2 separate regions of the Homo sapiens genome follow, and region 2 is linked to region 1. The links come from fine-mapping of genetic effects on gene expression. A gene starts in region 1. The other region holds a variant in brackets. All regions are shown on one strand. Distances are between the middles of the regions.

Region 1 (8,344 bases):
CCAGTAGTTAATATTTTTCATTGTGCAGTCGCCTCATTCAAAATAAAATTACCACCTTTTTCATTCATTTATTTCTCTGAAAATCTGGGGGGAAACATTACCTTCAGATTAGTATTTAATATTACTATAAATATGGCATTTGCTTTTCTCCAAAGTGTTTCCCCTTATGAAAAAAGTAGAAAAAGCAAAACACATTAAAAAAAGAAAGAAATAAAAGAAAGGCAAATGGAGAGCTACCTTTCTTTGACACATCTAGTTCTTATATCCAGAGTTAAGATAACAATTACCTTCTCAGCAGTCATGGCCAGCTCCATCCTGGTGTACCTTAAGAAATCTGAAATATCAAATAGTCAGACCAAGCTAGTGAACAAGGAGACTCCCCATGAATAATTTAGAAAATGGAGGTGGTTGGATGATACATACAAAAAAGAATTACCAACCTAATGCTTTCCCTCATCCTCCTAGGGCACCCTCCTTACATTTCTAACCTGCCTTACACACAACACACACACACCCCCAACAAATACACCAACACATAATCGCCTTCCCTTTCTGTTATTTGCTAAAGGACTATCAAAATAAAAAAATAATAATACTTCTCCAAGCTTTCACTAACCTTTTAATACAAGTCAATGCTGCAGACTCCTTATTGTAAAATATAGTCTGAAATATTAACAATAAATTCATAATATTCTTATGTCAGCATTCTATGGTGCTGTGTGAAGAAGAAAACAAAAACCTTCAGGCAATAAAATAACTTTGACCTGAGCTAAGCAAAAACGATCTGTTTGGATACATACACTTATTAGTCATTGTTTGAAACAGGCACCAAAATGATTTTCCAGTTTGAAAGCTTCCCCAGTTACACTTGGATGCAGTAAATCGGATGTAAAAGCTAAGAACTGATACAAAATCACTATTTCTAATAATGTTAATTATAAAAGCCAGTATGTTCCTGGCCCACAAATAATCAGAATGAAATAAAAAATCAAACACCCCCGTTTGCCCATTATTGTTTTACTTAACTTCAGATTGTGTGTGTGTGTATGTATGATCTCACCAGGGAAAAATTCTGTGTAATTCTGGATAAAATATAACGCTAATGAACTGACTAGTAACTGCATAGCTGTAGTATTTAAAACTGTGATTATTCCAACTGTGATTATATCCAGTTACCAAGGATACTGAAAGTTCAGGATCTTCATTTTTGTATATTATTCCACAGCCTTATATTCTTTACACATAAAAAAAGAATGATGCTTCCCAAATAGCGTCAATATAGCGATATATTAACTTTTCTTTTTAGCAAACATGACACTAAACGTCATATTCATTCATGAGAGAAGAGTTAAGCAAATTACAAATGGAATTTTCTCTTTTCTGCTGATTTACACTTTATTTTCTATGCATTTCTGGTCATTTCTATATGTGTATAGATAATTTTCATAACACTATATATGTTTTCACTGAAAAGAACCTGTTATTTAGGAATCTTCACAAAGAGTGAAGAGCATGACAAAAAGTACATAATAAGAGAATAGTGCAGGTTTTATACTCCTTATTTGCATTTAACTGTTTTAACAACTATCACCTCAAAATAAAAAGGAGGTGAATAGCAAATTTGTTAAGTTTTTGCTGTTTGGAGACAGTAAGAGATGAAGAGATGCTACTAAGCCCTCTGAATACCAAACTGGAATAATAATAAAGCTGTCTTTTAAAATAACATGCTTGTGCCTGTCAGTAGCTGCTTTATTTGAGTTTTTCATTGCTTTGTTTATATTAGTGCCCCCTCCCTCCTGGGTGCCTCTAGAATTAAACAAGCAGGTATTTACCACCAACTTAATCTTTAGTTTTAAAAATATAGACCAAACTCTAAGGTTCTCTAAATTTTTTATATTTATTTATTGCAGAAAAATATACAAAGATATTTACAAAACAATCATAAAAATATGAATGCATTTAGACACCGGATCTATTTGCATTTTACCATGGGTCCTCAATAAATAAATAGAATGTTGTTTTTTGTATTTTAAGTTTTTTTTTGTTTTTCCCCTCAGAGGAAGGATGAAAAAAAGAATTAACTGACTATGGTTTTGCAGGCCAGTTTGATCCCAGTATTTTTATTTCTAAAGGTGTTCTTATAGTTCCTCTGATTGTTACCATTTTAAAATAGAGAAAGTCCATAGTGATGCCTTTCCTTTCAGTGGCTGATTGGCACGACCTCTTGAGAATGCATGCATGAAAAAAATAAAAATAAAAACATTCTTCGTCAAAAAAAAAAAAAAAAAAAACACAAACAACTGTTCAGACTTCTATCAGAATGCAGAGGTGTGAGGATGGTGCCGCTGCCCGTCTGGGAATCACTGTCCACGGGCCTGTCTCGCTTTCTCTTTTAAAAGTGCGCCCCACGCCCTGTTTCTTTGAATTTGGATTTTGCTCTTCTAATTTCCAAGAAAATCTTTGGCATATATTTTTATTTTTAGTTATCCAGCTCCAGAGTCTCTAGACTGTCCATTTTCTCCTTCTCTGGAAACAATGACATCTGCAAAAACCCAGAGGGGGGGGGGGGAGTCGGTTATTGTTTAGGTCTCTGCGGCTGTTTTCTAAGACTAGTGAGCACTGTTCTTATCACCACCACTGAGAAATTAAGCTGAACAACCTGGAAGGATTTCAGCCCAAGGGCAAGAGGAAGTGGGTGGGTGGAAAGGAGGAGGAGGTGGAATTTGTTTTAAAACATTTGTTTTAAGGAGAACAAAAATTGAAAGCCGAAAGAAAGGGTGGCGCTGACAAAACGGTCCTTACCCGTGACCCTGGGTGTCTCTGTCTCCCCTCCTGTCACGCACACTCACGCGCACACACACCCCTCACCAGGGCGCATCCCCCTGGAGACTGCTCTCCCTAGCGGGGTCAGACCGGCCTTCCGGGGACGCTGGGGGCGCGAGGCAACGGTGCCAAGTGAGGTGGGAAGGCTGAGCGGAGAGTGGGAGAGGGGAGGAAATCGAGGTGGACTGGGAACCGCGGCCTGGCCGGCCTGCCGTCTGCCACCTGAGAGGCGAAGGGGTGCAGCGGCGCGGTCCTTACCTAGGTCTCCGGCCCTGCTGAGGGGGTGGGGGGCTCCGCCTGCTAGTGGGACGCGGACATGGACCAGGCCCCCTCCATCCTCCAGACCGAGAAGGCGTAGCTGAGCCGCTCGTGAGCCACATAGCTGCAGCTTGCCATCTTGGAGTCCAGCTCGTCGCTCTGGAGGACCTGGTAGAGGAAGTCGATGTACCTGGCCGCCAGCTTGAGGGTCTGAATCTTGCTCAGCTTGTCCGAGGGCAGCGTGGGGATGATCTTCCGCAGCGCGGCGAACGCCTCGTTCAGCGACTGGGTGCGCTGGCGCTCCCGCACGTTGGCCATGACCCGCTGCGTCTGCAGCTCCTCGTAAGACTGCGGACTCCCGCCGCCGCTGCTGCTGCCGCCGCCGCCGCCCGCGCCGCCGCCGCCGCCACAGCCCGCAGACTTCTTGCCGCGCTTGCCCTGGGCCGGGCTGCCCGGCTCGTCGCCGCCTCCGACGCCCCCACCCGCGGCTCCGCCGGGCCCCGCGCCGCCGCCCGCGCTGCGCCTGCTGCTGCGCCGCTTGCGTCCCCCGCGCTTGCCGCTCGGCGGCTGCTGCCGGTCTGGCTCTTCCTCGCTGTTGCTCAGGCTGTCGTCGGCCGGCGAGACTGGCGAGCTGGACACGTCCTGCATCATCTCTCGAGCGGCGACGCGTGGCCTCGCGGGCCCGGGGCAGAGGAGAAGAGCGGGGCGCCTCAGCCCGCCAGCTTCCCCCGCGCGCGGCGCCGGCCCGGGCGATGCGGCCCGCGGAGGAGAGAGCAGGAGGACGGACGGGAGGGACCTCCGCGGGGAGGGCGCGCGGGGGAGGCGGGGAGGGAGGCGGGAGGGGGAGGGGACGGTGTGGATGGCCCCGAGGTCCAAAAAGAAAGCGCCCAACGGCTGGACGCACACCCCGCCAGGCCTCCTGGAAACGGTGCCGGTGCTGCAGAGCCCGCGAGGTGTCTGGGAGTTGGGCGAGAGCTGCAGACTTGGAGGCTCTTATACCTCCGTGCAGGCGGAAAGTTTGGGGGCAGCAGTGTCATTGGCCTGACGTGAGGAGGAGGGACTTTTCGAAGTTTTATAGGAAAGTTTCCGCTTTCCAGTCCCCCTCCCCCGTCCCACCTCCCTTCCTCGGGGTCTAACAATTCGTCCTCCCAAACCATTCAAAAACGACCTGGCCCGGGCGGCCGGCCCCTCCACCCGCCTCCTAGCCGCCCTCCCCCTTCCCTCCCCGTCGCCTTCCTCCGGCGGGCGCGGGGCGATTTCCTTCCCCGCCGGAGCGTGCGGGCAGCGCCCCCGAACCCTAGCGCAGCCCAGGAAGCGGTCGGAGGAGACTGTCCTGGCCGCGGTGGCAGCCCCATCCGGAGTGGCTGTGACAGCAGCAATGGCAACAGCTTCTACACAGTGGGTGATGTCTCATCTCGCCCAAGAGCCCTCTAGGTCCGTGGGGCCGATTTGGGATTGCTGGGGCTGGGGGGGTGGTGTGGCGCGGGGTGGGGGGGCATGCCAAGAAAAGTGTCAACCGCGGAGCCCACCCAATGGTCAGGTAGACGAACCCCTTGGAGTTCCAAAGGCCAAACCGCGGCGGCCCAGCCCGGAGGTCCTGGGCGTTTCTGAAGACGTGGCCGCGCCGCGGGGGCTGAGGATTTGCGTCCCGGCCTGCTCTCTCGCCCTTCTGGGCCCTCCTTTCCCCTCTACAACGACCCAGTCTGACGCTCCCCAACATCCAAAGGACTACGCCTCGGAAGGTGCTCGAAAGAGGCAGAAGTTCACTCTTCGGTGGAAGGAAACCCAGTCCATGGGAAAGGCAGCAGAGCCAGAGGGGGGCAGCGCAGCGCCTTTGCTGCGGCCCTAACAGCTGGCAATGCCAACCCAAGGGAGAGACCCTGTGGCCATTTCATCCCCACCCCCAAATTAGGCTCCGCATTGTGACCTTGAAAGGCCAGCTTGTAAGAGAGTGAAGTGGGAATTTGATAGCGCCTAGACATAGGGGCTGCCCGCTCTGAGACCCCCCCCGCCCCAGCCCCCACTATCTAGGGCATCCAGTGGACAATTAGGCTTCGTGAGCCCCAATTCCAAATGCTTGGATACGCTAACATTTTAAGCATTTCTGTCTGTAAGTTAAAACGAAGAGCCCCAAAGAGGGTGTTAATGTAGATCCTGGCAAACTGGAAGCAGCAAAGTTGGTGAACCAGAAAGGAAGTCGCCTTGGATAAGAAGCCCATCTTTTGCAATGCCATACTTGTTTCCTTTTTGAAATGAATTGAGGTAAAATAACCGTTTCAGGTCCATCCCTTACATGGCAAAGTAAAAAGCTGGAGTCAGTACACAGTGTTGGGGTGGGGGCAGCGTTTGGGGGCGACGAGTTTTGTGCACCGCGCTGGAGTACCCTGCACATAAGGTCCGCTCATGGGCTTCTCAGTACGGACTCGCCGGCGGGAACAATTAATTGAGCAAAGCGCCCCTTTCTGGGCTGGAGCAAGGTTCGCGGCTGCAGATATCTCAAGCTGAAGGCAAGAGCCCAGGCGAGGCGCAGGCAGGCCACGTGGCTGTTCCCTGCTGAGACTCGCAGCTTTGGTCTTGGAAACCTCAGGGTGTGGAGCTGCTTGGGCCGACTGAAGGGTTCAGCTTTTTGGGAGAAGTGAGGGCGAGTGTTATTTCTCCAGCGAGGTGTAAACAAGACTGTGCTTTCATGGGAGGGACAAATTGCAGAGTTGATCCCTTACCATTTTTACAGAAATACTCAGAAAGTGACTACAGCTTGTCAACTGGCCTGTTTAGTGAGCCGCTGCCTTACTGTAAAATTGTCTGAAAATCAGATTCGACTTGACCTCCACTTAATTTCAGTAGCACTCTAGCAGTTCTCAAAACAGTCACCCCTGCACCCTTGCGTTTGCATCTTCCGCTACAGGATTTTATCTCTTGGAAGCGCTTAGAGAATGCGGCAGAAATTCTGCCCCACTCTCCACCAAGTGTTCTTTTTGTAAATCTGAATTTACAGTATTCTGCAATTCTTATTTAGAACGTGGCTGCAGAAATCTCGAAACCTTTTCCACTTCAGCTATTTTTTTAAAGATAAATCTTATTTTTGTTTTGTTCTTTTTTTCTCTTTTCTCAAAAATAAATAAAGAGATCGAATGATTGGACTCTTTCCTTTGTGGCCACGGATAAGTAAGACAGGAAAGTGTGGGTAAAGTGTAAAGGAAATCTTACCTGACCAAGGGGAATTTGGGAAGGGGAGGGGAGCGGACAAGCTAGAGGAGAAACCAAGTCCACAGCAGCGCAGCAGCCAGGGGTCATTAGCCAGTCCATCTTGCAAAGTCATCAGTCTCAAAGACTGGTTCTTAAACAAGTGAGCCCAGCCCTTTTCCCGGCACTAAACTTCTAGCTGATGAAGAGCTCCTGGCCATTGGGTACAGGGATCCCCGCAAGGCTCAGGCGACGCTCTGATGCCAGAATACTGAGAGGGGAATTCAAAATGAACACCTAACCAGAACCATCCTGCCCATGGACTCTTTCAGCCACAGTCACAATTGATGACTAGTTCTAAGAAGAAATGGCTCTTGAACTGTTCCGGGGAGTGGAGGATGAGACGACTTTTGAGTTCTTAAGTGGGGCTTGAATGTTACTTTTGGAGCAAAAGTAGTCCAGGAGGTACCTCTCAAAAAATGGCTGGAGCTAGATACTCCCTGCTTTGCAAACTGCAACACGCCCTGGCTGACGAGTCCAGTCTGCTCATATACAGCTCTTTCTTATCTAACATTTTACCTAACAATTTTCTTTTCCACATTTGCAAGGATGGCTCCCTTTTTACTTGTTGACAGGTCAGGTATAATTCTGGATTCTCTTATATATGCAACAATAATTGCAACTTCTGCAATGTTTAGTTTAAATTTGAAAGCTTCTTTCTAAAATCCCAATCTTGAGATCATGAAAACAATCTTAGAAATTTTCTTTTGAGGCTGAAGTTAGCCTAACTGGAAGTATGTCAGTGGGGACTACCTTCTTTGGGAATGCTAGATTAACTGGAATTCAGTCATTTTGCCTCCTTCTAAAGTAAAGTCCTCCCCAAAAAAATTTAACTGAAAAAAAAAATTTCTTTTGTACTTGGATAGTTCAAAACGATCTTTGTTTTCAAACTGCAAACTTGGCATGTTTGCAATCCTGCCTGAGGAATGTGTGCTGTGTTAAAAATTGAAACAAAAAATACTGTTAAAAGTAACAGAGTTAGAAATCTCACATTGAACATATACAATAAGTATTAAGTATCCTGGCAGTTTGAATATGCTGTGACATTCTCTTAGCAACAACCAATTATAAATACTTTTAGATACGGAAAAGAAACACACACTATAGAATGGTTAGCCAACTGGTAAATTCTGGAGTTTGGGCTTGCATAAAAGGTGAGTACCTCAATCTGTTCCTACTCTTCTTTCTCCTCAGACCTTAGATGGCCTATCACCTGTTTGTTGGCTCCGAGTTCTGAGAAATAATTTATCTGAATTGCATAAATAGTGCACAGGAGCATTCGCACGGAAGGGAGTGAAAATTAGAAAGGCTGCAATTGAGTGAATATCAGATGAGGTTGTATATCTTAGATTTCATCTTGCTTTGAACACTCCAGAGGGACTGCTGTTTAAATGAGAGAATTTTAGTAAGGTGGAATATAAAGTCATGTATGTCAACACAATAACTGTGTAAAAGCTTATTCTTCTTTCATGACCCTGGTAGCCTTAATGATGTTTGAACACCTTTCCCTATATAAAAACTCATTCTCTTTCTCTTTAAATGATGATTTGATTCATAAACTCAACTGATTCTACATTTTTCTATCTGAATATCTTTAAAAGTAAAAAAAACAAACTAAAGTTATAAAATGTGAAGTTTTCAATCCAGAAATAAAACGAAAAAGTAAAAAACACAATAAATTAGGGTGCGAACAGTACCGCAAGTGAAATTTTCAAATAAATGTTAATCTTTAAAATAGCTGACATTCTGAACTCAGCTTAAGGATGGGATGAGGAGACATAGGTCTAACCTGTAGAAAGTGCAGGATCAGAATATGGAAAAGTATGGAGTCTTGAAGAGCATTTTTTTTTTTCATTTTTTTTTTCAGGGGTTGTGCAGGCTGGAGAGTTGGTGTCTTAGCTGCCCATTAACCTTGTTGGAAAACACACTCACTTCACTTGTATCAAAGAGTTGCTGGAATAACTGATGAAAGAATGCAAGAAATAAATAGTTATTCATAGGAACTATTATCATGGTCTCA
Region 2 (8,344 bases), 350 kb after region 1:
TTGTCTCTTGCCTCACAGTGTGATGACCCCTGCTGTAGATGGAAGATCAATGCACTTCAGTGCTGCTTCCCACAGATCATTCTGTCCAAGGCTTTCTGATATTTTATAAGCTATGGTTTGCACCAGCAGTATTTTCAGACATTCCTCAAACTTAAGCTTCCATTTTATTACTATAATCAAAATTTCAATTGGTTTTAGTCTGGTGATATCATAAGGACAGAATCTATGGAACTAAATTAGCATAAGATGAAGTAATTTCAAAATAAATCTAATGTCACATCAAAAAAATTTTATTTTCTACTTAATAATTAGAAATGTGGTTGAGAATATGAAAAAACAACCAATGTACATTTTTCCTTTTATGGATCTAATGCTAATAAACATCAGCCCTGTATTCCCAGTCTATCTATATTACGCACATGAATCATGTATGGAGTTACCTAGAGAAAGTTAAAGTAGGAGATTTTGGGTCATGGCAATAGTGCATCTCTTTTCCCCAAGAGAAACAAATCTGACTTACATTCAGATTGGCTAGGTGGAAATTCCCTCCAGCTTTTATATTCCTGTGATCACTTGGCACAATATTTCAACATTGTAATAACTTTATCCATGGAGTCGAAAAATATAAGCCCCTAGGGTTAATTATAAGCAGAGTTGTCCTTGGTAGAAAATATCTTTCATTTCAATTATTTAAAAAGCACAGAATAATGTAATACAGGTTTCTGGAAAGAACGATAATGGTCAGATGCTTTTTCCTGTACCCTTGAGAGAAAGCATGACTCTGTTGAGATGCAAGCTTGGGGAATGTGATGCCTGTTTCCCCTCTCGTCTTATCATCATTTCACAGTGTGCTCCTGTGAAATTACTGTAACCTTTTCTATTTTAGGTGATGACTTTGCAAGAGCCTTACTCAGAAGTCTCGGGAAGCATTATGAATGTTTTTTAATGATTTTTTTGTGATTTTACAAAGCATCTTTTAAAAAATATCTACTTAAATGGGTTCCCTTCATTTTCAAGGTTTTGATCAGGTTTTTCTAAGTAGTAAGTGGAAAAAATATATAAATTTTATTTCATGAAATATTCTGTGGCACAAAAAGAAAAATGGATAACTGAATAATAGTTAATTTAGAGGCTGGGTGGATTTTCTTTTGGCTGCAAACGATTGCTCTTTATGGGCTCATGGTTTCTGGGGAATTTGGCTGAGGTGTAAGTCCTGTTTCTTGAAACTATTTATGTAGCCTTGATGCACACATATGTGAAACATTATAAAAAGACTTCTCTATTTGGGGTTGAGAACAAAGAAAGGTTACCAAAAACATAGATAAGGAAACTGGGGCTCCCACTGGTGAATCTTGGACAATGTAACAAAGCCTGTATCTCTCTGCTTTTCAGGCATCAGCCTTTTTGGGAGGCCTCCTATCCTAACTCACCCAACATGATCATACCTAAACTAGGATTTATAGTTTGAGCAGAAGTCCAAGGGTTCTGTCTGTAAGTGGAAAAAGTCTGAATGCACATACTAATTTATATGTCATACCTAATAGCTACCTAGACCCTGAGGCTGATTGCTCTTTTTGATGTCTGAGAAGCAATAAATTTGTAGCATTTCTCTTTTACCTAGCATGGCTTTGTAAAAACCATTCAAAATGTATGACAAGTATCAGAAAATGAAGGCAGAGGTGAAGTGTTCAAGCATTCTAAGGAAAGCAGCTATATAAATGAAAAGCATTAATATTATTATTATAGAAACACATTTCCTCATTAACCTCTACTTCCATACCAACAAATATTCTCCAAAAGGCTTATTTTCTTTGACCATTTTACATGCTTCCTTGGCAGCCACCTAGTAAAGCCTTTGAAACTGTGCATATTGCTTACAAATATTTCATTATGAATTGAGCCTTTCAGCTTGTAAATGCAGAAAAATTAAGCATGAAAAAGCCCAACACTACAAATGAAAACATAATAACCTGCACAATGTGCACATGTACCCTAAAACTTAAAGTATAATAAAAAAAAAAATAAGTAAAGCAAAGGTGAAAAGTCTTAAGCCAAACTTCATAAACCAAAAAGCAGTCTAAATCTCCTATCCCATAATGACACTCACTTTATTGGAAAGAAGCAGCCTACTTTTATTCAAACATGGTCATTTATTTAAGATACAGAATATCCCTAATCCACAAAGAGAAAGAGCCAGAGAGCATGGGAACAATTGTTTCTCTTCCCCCTCAAATATAAAATATAGGAGGGAACTCATACCCTATATAGTTAGCCTATTTGTAAAATTTGACTGTAAGGTATGATGCTACATTTGCTGATATTAATACAATATAATGAAATATTGATGTGGTTTTAAGTTTGCATTAATATGACTGTAATTTGTTATTTGCCATATATATACACACACATAAATATATATATTATATATAATGTATATATTAGTACTAGCTTCTTGGTTTCAATTCTTATGGTAAATTAAGTTATTTTATATATTGAAGGCAGATTAAATGACTTGACATGCAACTCATACTAACACAGCCACTACTAAAGTAGGTCAACTTTTAAACTGATGCTAGAAGACTACTTACAGAAAATTAAGGGTAAAAAATACTGTATTAATTTAAAGGGAATAATATTACATCGGCAAAAATAGAATATTCATTATATGTATTTTCTTTAATTTTAATTTTAGCTATTTGTACTTAAGATGGTATTTTACTCTAAGCATTTGATTATGGTAATCTATCTTCTCATGTTTTTCCTGTATTCTGTAACTCATTCTCAAGCATTCTAAGTATGATAATTTTAAGGTTAATATACAGTGTTAATTCAAAAGATGAAGTTTATTTAATTCATATTACAACTAGAAATATGGAATCAGTCTAACGTTTATACTATTTTTGTTGGAAGTAATTATGATTCAAGGGGAGGTATAGGATATAAATACTATCTTTACTCAGCAAACTCATTCATGTACTCATTCGTCACATATTGAGCACAAACTATATATGAGCAGTGTGCACAATCATTGTGTTCAGAAACTGTAGTGCTTCAGGAAAATGAGAAATCCCCAAATTCTCTTTTCCTATGAGTAATAGAGGAACCTCGTGATTTTTGAGGTCCATTGGTCCAATTTCCTGAATCTGTACAATCCATCACAATGGACCTTCTTAAAGTCTCTCTACCTAAGTTAACCTTGTTGGGGTTGATGCTTGGGGAAAGGATTAGTTTCTAGTCTCATAACTATGTGTGTGCATACCTGTGTGATAATCTGGCAGCTTGTACACCCTGTAACTGAGATTTCACTATTATCTAATTTAATATAATATTTTCAGTTGTCTTTTTTACTAGCAGCAGTAATAGTATCATAATTTACATGGAATGAATACTGTGTGCCATCATGGCTTACAGGAGTCTATTGTTTTCAAGTTATTTCAAGTTTCAATATAAATTACATAATTATATTGCTTTATGTATATAACAAAGACCTCATCCTTACAAGCAAGGTGCTTGAGTTCCGAAATGAGAATCCAGGTAAATATAATTGAACCAAAAATATCCAAGTATGTATTTATACTAGGGAGGCCACATGATTTATCATCCAAAGTTTTTTTGAGAGTAAAAGGGATACTCTTAATAATTATGTTGGCACAACATTTAAAAACCAAGACCTGGTCAAACTGGGATGTATGGTGACCCAGCTTATTACATATGTGTTGAGTTAAAAAATATCTGCACGCACATGCAGGTGTCAAACTAATGTGTGCTATAATAAAATTCAATTATTTGAATAGGATAGCCTTTATATTTATTATGGTGCTGGGAAATGATGTAAAATTAAAATTTAGTGTTAACAAATAGTTGTGTATATACTTTTTAAAACATTTTTGGAAGTAAAGGAGTATATTTTATACAATATGAAGATCATTTATAACTAGTACAGGATATGTAGGTGATGGGCCTTTTTTTAACCAGAGGGTTACAACCACTCTGATACTGCTCCTACTGGCAAATCTGTGGCTAAAGTAAGCATCAAAAACCACCCTTTCTCTTTGGAAGTTAGCACCCCCACTATGTACTCCAGCATCATCTGACAGAACCTCTATCATTTCTTCCCATGGATTAGGCAATATTGCATTACTTTGTCTGAGTCCCAAAAATTATTGTGTCATAACAGATAAAATTAATAATTAGCCGTTTAATTCTCACACTAGCCAAACCTATTTTGACCCTCATAAAGAAAATATTAGTAGAAGTCTCTTTTAGGATTAAACTAAATTTATGTGTTAATTTTAACTTGAGTATACTTGAAGAGATGGAATTTTCACTGCTTACTATGGGAAGTCATATACTAGAACTCAAATTTTCCGGAGCATGCTTAAGTATGGGGCATACTTATGGCCAGTCTAAGTGTGTCAGCAAAAGCTAGAATTCATATATATATAAAATATTCTCTAGTATTCTGTTTATAGGTTGTTTCACAGCATGAAGATAATTTTTACCCATAAATTTTAAACGTTCAAAACATTTCATATCCTGGGATTCCCAAAATTGATGTGGAATCATCAAACCTTAAGATAAACCCAAGAAACATGGACACTTCCATCACTAAAGATGATGTAATAGTGTCTGAAAATATTTTCCTTGAGTGAGTTGTGACTTGTGACAGTTGTATTTCGTTTGTTATTTCTTTGTAAAATGGTTTACTTTAAAATATTACACTTGAAAAATTATCTTGTTTATGGCATTTGAAGAACCAGAATAAGAAATATTATAAACTTAATTTGTACATTGGGTGGAAAGAGTAGATGATAGAATTCTATTACAGTAAAACAAGTAAACTAGATTGTCACTTTAAGAGATTTCTTATGGAGGATTTATTCTTTAGCTTGTTATGATCACATTTTTATAGAAACAGCTGTACTTGTTATCACACTCTGCCACATCATCAGTCATCTAGCTACTGCAGAGAATTCCCCCAAGCAGCACTGGACGTTCATGAGTTTA[T/C]ATTACTGCCATAAATTTTTGGGCTGTAAGTTTTTATACAAATAATCCCACGTCTCTTGTAAACATTTCGCCAATTGGTTAATAACATGATCTCTACCAGGGGATTTCTGGAATGTTTCTATCTTTTAAAAACAATGGCCTAGAGTACATTTTTGCAAATGCTAAAAACCTTCCAAATGAATTTGGGCAGTCTGAGGACATGTATATGATGAGAAAATATGCTTTTCCTTAATTTTACTGTTTAACCTCTTGATCCATTTTTTGGCTGAATCATGTGAAAGGATCTATTCACAAAAGATAATAGTTTAGTTATATTTGAAAAAAATATGGAGTGGCCTTTTAAATGAGAGTGGCGAGCTCCTAGCCATGAAACTCATTTCACAGTTCCTCCACTGCTCTTCAAAGTTAAATAATCACCAGAAAGAAGCCCAGCATTTCCACGGTGCCATCCATTATGTAGATGCCGGTGTTTCTTTCCCTAGGCACATTCCTCTCAAAATAAAAATGAAAAGAGTGCATAAGTTTGCCCACAGACTAATTTCTAAATGTACTAATCTGATCTTTTACCTCCATTTCTTTGGTGACATATAAATAGACCCTCAAATATTATTTCACAGCTCTAAAAGTTAATGGTGTTCTTTACTGGATCTTCCTTCATCAACGACACAGTGTCCTATTTTCTTGCGAGCTCTGTCTCTGACTGTCCTAAACCATTGACTGAATCTCAGATTCTAATGGTGAAGTTAAGGTAGTCTGAAAAACCAGAGGGAATTTTTCAAAAGGGAACTTAGATTTAACGTAAAATACATCATTTTAGATTTGGGGAAGAATAGTTTGAGATTTTGCATTTGTGATAATTCAGTGATCTGATTTAACATCATCATTCCAAAGCCAGTCAACAAATTTTCCAATATTCTAGGCGTGACCAACTAAATTAAAGTTTCAAATTGGCTCACCTACTATCCTCAATACTAGGTTCTTCTGAAGTATCTTTAGTAGCTAAAATTTAGCTGTGGGGAACTGAGCATCAGCTAAATTAAAGTTTGTTATGCATTCTATTGACATGAACAATGATGTTACTCCAGTAAAGATTTTCTGATGATAGAGATTAAGTAGATTTTCAAGTTACAGATTTATATAGATAGCAGAATCCTATTTGTAAGAAATTCATGTACATATGTTTATGCTTACAATATTAATGGATACCTACAAAATATTAATTGTGGTTATTTCTGGACTGGGAAGTTGGAAAGTGAGAATAGTTTAAGTTGTAATGTTCACCTTACACTTTTTGTACAATTTGAATTTTAGAATAATCAGGTATAGTTTTGATAGAGAAAAACTTAAAAACAACAAAAACCAGATAAAATCGATGTGATTTCATTCAGTGTTAATCATTATCAGAGCTATATTTTTTTAAAAAATTTCCATCTATAAAAATATCTTGGGTGATTACAATGTGTTAATACAGGTTCATGAATTGTAACAAATGTAGTATTCTGGTTGGGGATTTGATATTGGGAGAGGCTATGCATGCCTGGGGCCAGGAGGGCAAATGGAAAATCTTTTTACCTTCCTTTCAATTTTTCTATGAACTTAAAACTGCTGTAAAGTTTTTACATTGAAATTGATTAATTAAATTAGATATGATGGATTAGAGCTGATATTATGAAATTAAAAACCAAAAATCAATAAAACCAAATGCAGGTTTTTAAAAAAAAGTTTAATTAAATCACTAAGCAAGGCTAAGAAGAGAGGAGACACAAATTACTAGTATTAGGCACGAAAGAAGAGCGATCACTTCAAATTCCATGTTCATTCAAAAGATGATACTATGAGCAACTCTATTCCCTCAAATTTGATAACATAGACGAAATTGACCAATTTATTGAAAAACACAATTAGCCAAAACTCACAGTAGAAGAACTAGATAATCTGAATAGGCCTATATTATATAAATTGAATAAATAAATAATATTCTGTAGAAAGCACCAGTACCAGATGAGTTCACTGGAGAATTCTACCAAACTTTTAAGAAAAAAATTTTACAAATTCTCTAATCTCTTCCAGAAGACAGAAGCATAAGAAATGCTTCCTAACTCATACTTTGAGGCCAGCATTACCCTAATGCCAAAACAGAAGACATTACAAGGAAACTACAGACAAATATCTAACAAATATTGATTCTAAAATCCTCAACATCCTAGTAATTGCATCCAACAATGTAATAAAGTATTGCACACCATGAACAAGTGGGGATATACCCCAGGTATGCACGGCTGGGTCAGCATTCAAAAATCAATTAATATAATCTATTTCATCAAAAGGCAAAAGAAGAAAAATCACATAATTATACAAATAGATGCAGAAAAAGCATCTGATAAAGTTTAATGTCCATTCATGATGAAATAGAAATAGAGGTAAATGAAAATATCTACATAAAAATTACAGCTTACATTATACTTAATGATGACAAAATAGAATCTTTCTCACCAAGATTAGGAACAAGGCAAGGATGTCTCTTCCTACCACAGCTTTTCCACATTGTAATGGATGTCCTACTTAATATAGTGAGACAAGAAAATAAAGTAAAAACTGTAAAGATTGGGAAAGAAGAAATAAAACTTAGTTTCTTCACAAATGACATGGTTGCCTATGTAGAAAATCTGAAAGAATTGACAAAAATAACTTCAGGAACTAATGAGCAATTATAGCAAGGTTGTAGGAAACAAGGTTAATACACAAAAGTCAATTATTGCCCTATATACCAGCAATGACCAATCGGAAGTTGAAATTAAGACACGTTACCATTTACATTAGCACCCCAAAGATTAAACAGAAACAAATCTAACAAAATATGTTCAAGATCTATATGAGGAAGACGACAAAAAATCTGAATGAAATCAAGGAAGAACTAAATAAATAGAAATACTTTGATGAAAAGGAAGACCCAATATTACCAAGTTGTAAGTTCTTTCTAACTTGATCTACAGATTCAATGCAATCCTAGTCAAAATCCCAGACAGTTATTTTGCAGATATTGACAAACAGATTCTAGCATTTAGATGGGGAGGAGAAACACCCAGAATAGTCAACACAATATTGAAGGTGAAGGACAAAGTTGGAGGACTGACACTACATGACTTCAATGCTTATCATAAAGCTACAGTCATTGAGACTGTGGTATTGTTGAAAGAATAAACAAATAGGTCAATTGAAAAAATAGCCCAGAAATAGACCCAATAAATATCATCAACTAATCTTTGTTAAAGGAACAAAGGCAATACAATGGAGAAAACATGCCTTTTCAACAAATGGTGCTGGAACAACTCAACAA

Direction of the effects. Positions count from the first base shown, and alleles are read on the strand shown. Sizes are in standard deviations (SD) of each study's normalised expression.
For the expression in ileum of the gene that starts at base 4,047 in region 1, T is the low allele of the variant in region 2 and C is the other (moderate effect, 0.47 SD a copy in GTEx).

Evidence for each region. PIP is the estimated chance that this variant, and not a neighbour inherited with it, causes the effect.
Region 2: its variant is fine-mapped to the expression of TWIST1 in ileum (GTEx, PIP 0.97).

The regions. Positions count from the first base shown.
Region 1 is chr7:19,113,590-19,121,933 of GRCh38, forward strand. It overlaps TWIST1 (twist family bHLH transcription factor 1), which reads right to left and starts at 4,047. Exons shown (of 2, transcript NM_000474.4): 1 at 3,082-4,047; 2 at 1,879-2,542. The coding sequence starts at 3,732. The coding sequence ends at 3,124. RefSeq lists enhancers at 3,054-3,313, 3,337-4,120, 5,194-6,057.
Region 2 is chr7:19,465,240-19,473,583 of GRCh38, forward strand. No RefSeq gene overlaps it. Among named protein-coding and RNA genes, the nearest start is that of MIR3146, 240 kb to the right of the region's middle. The variant T/C (reference allele first, on the strand shown) is at 5,008.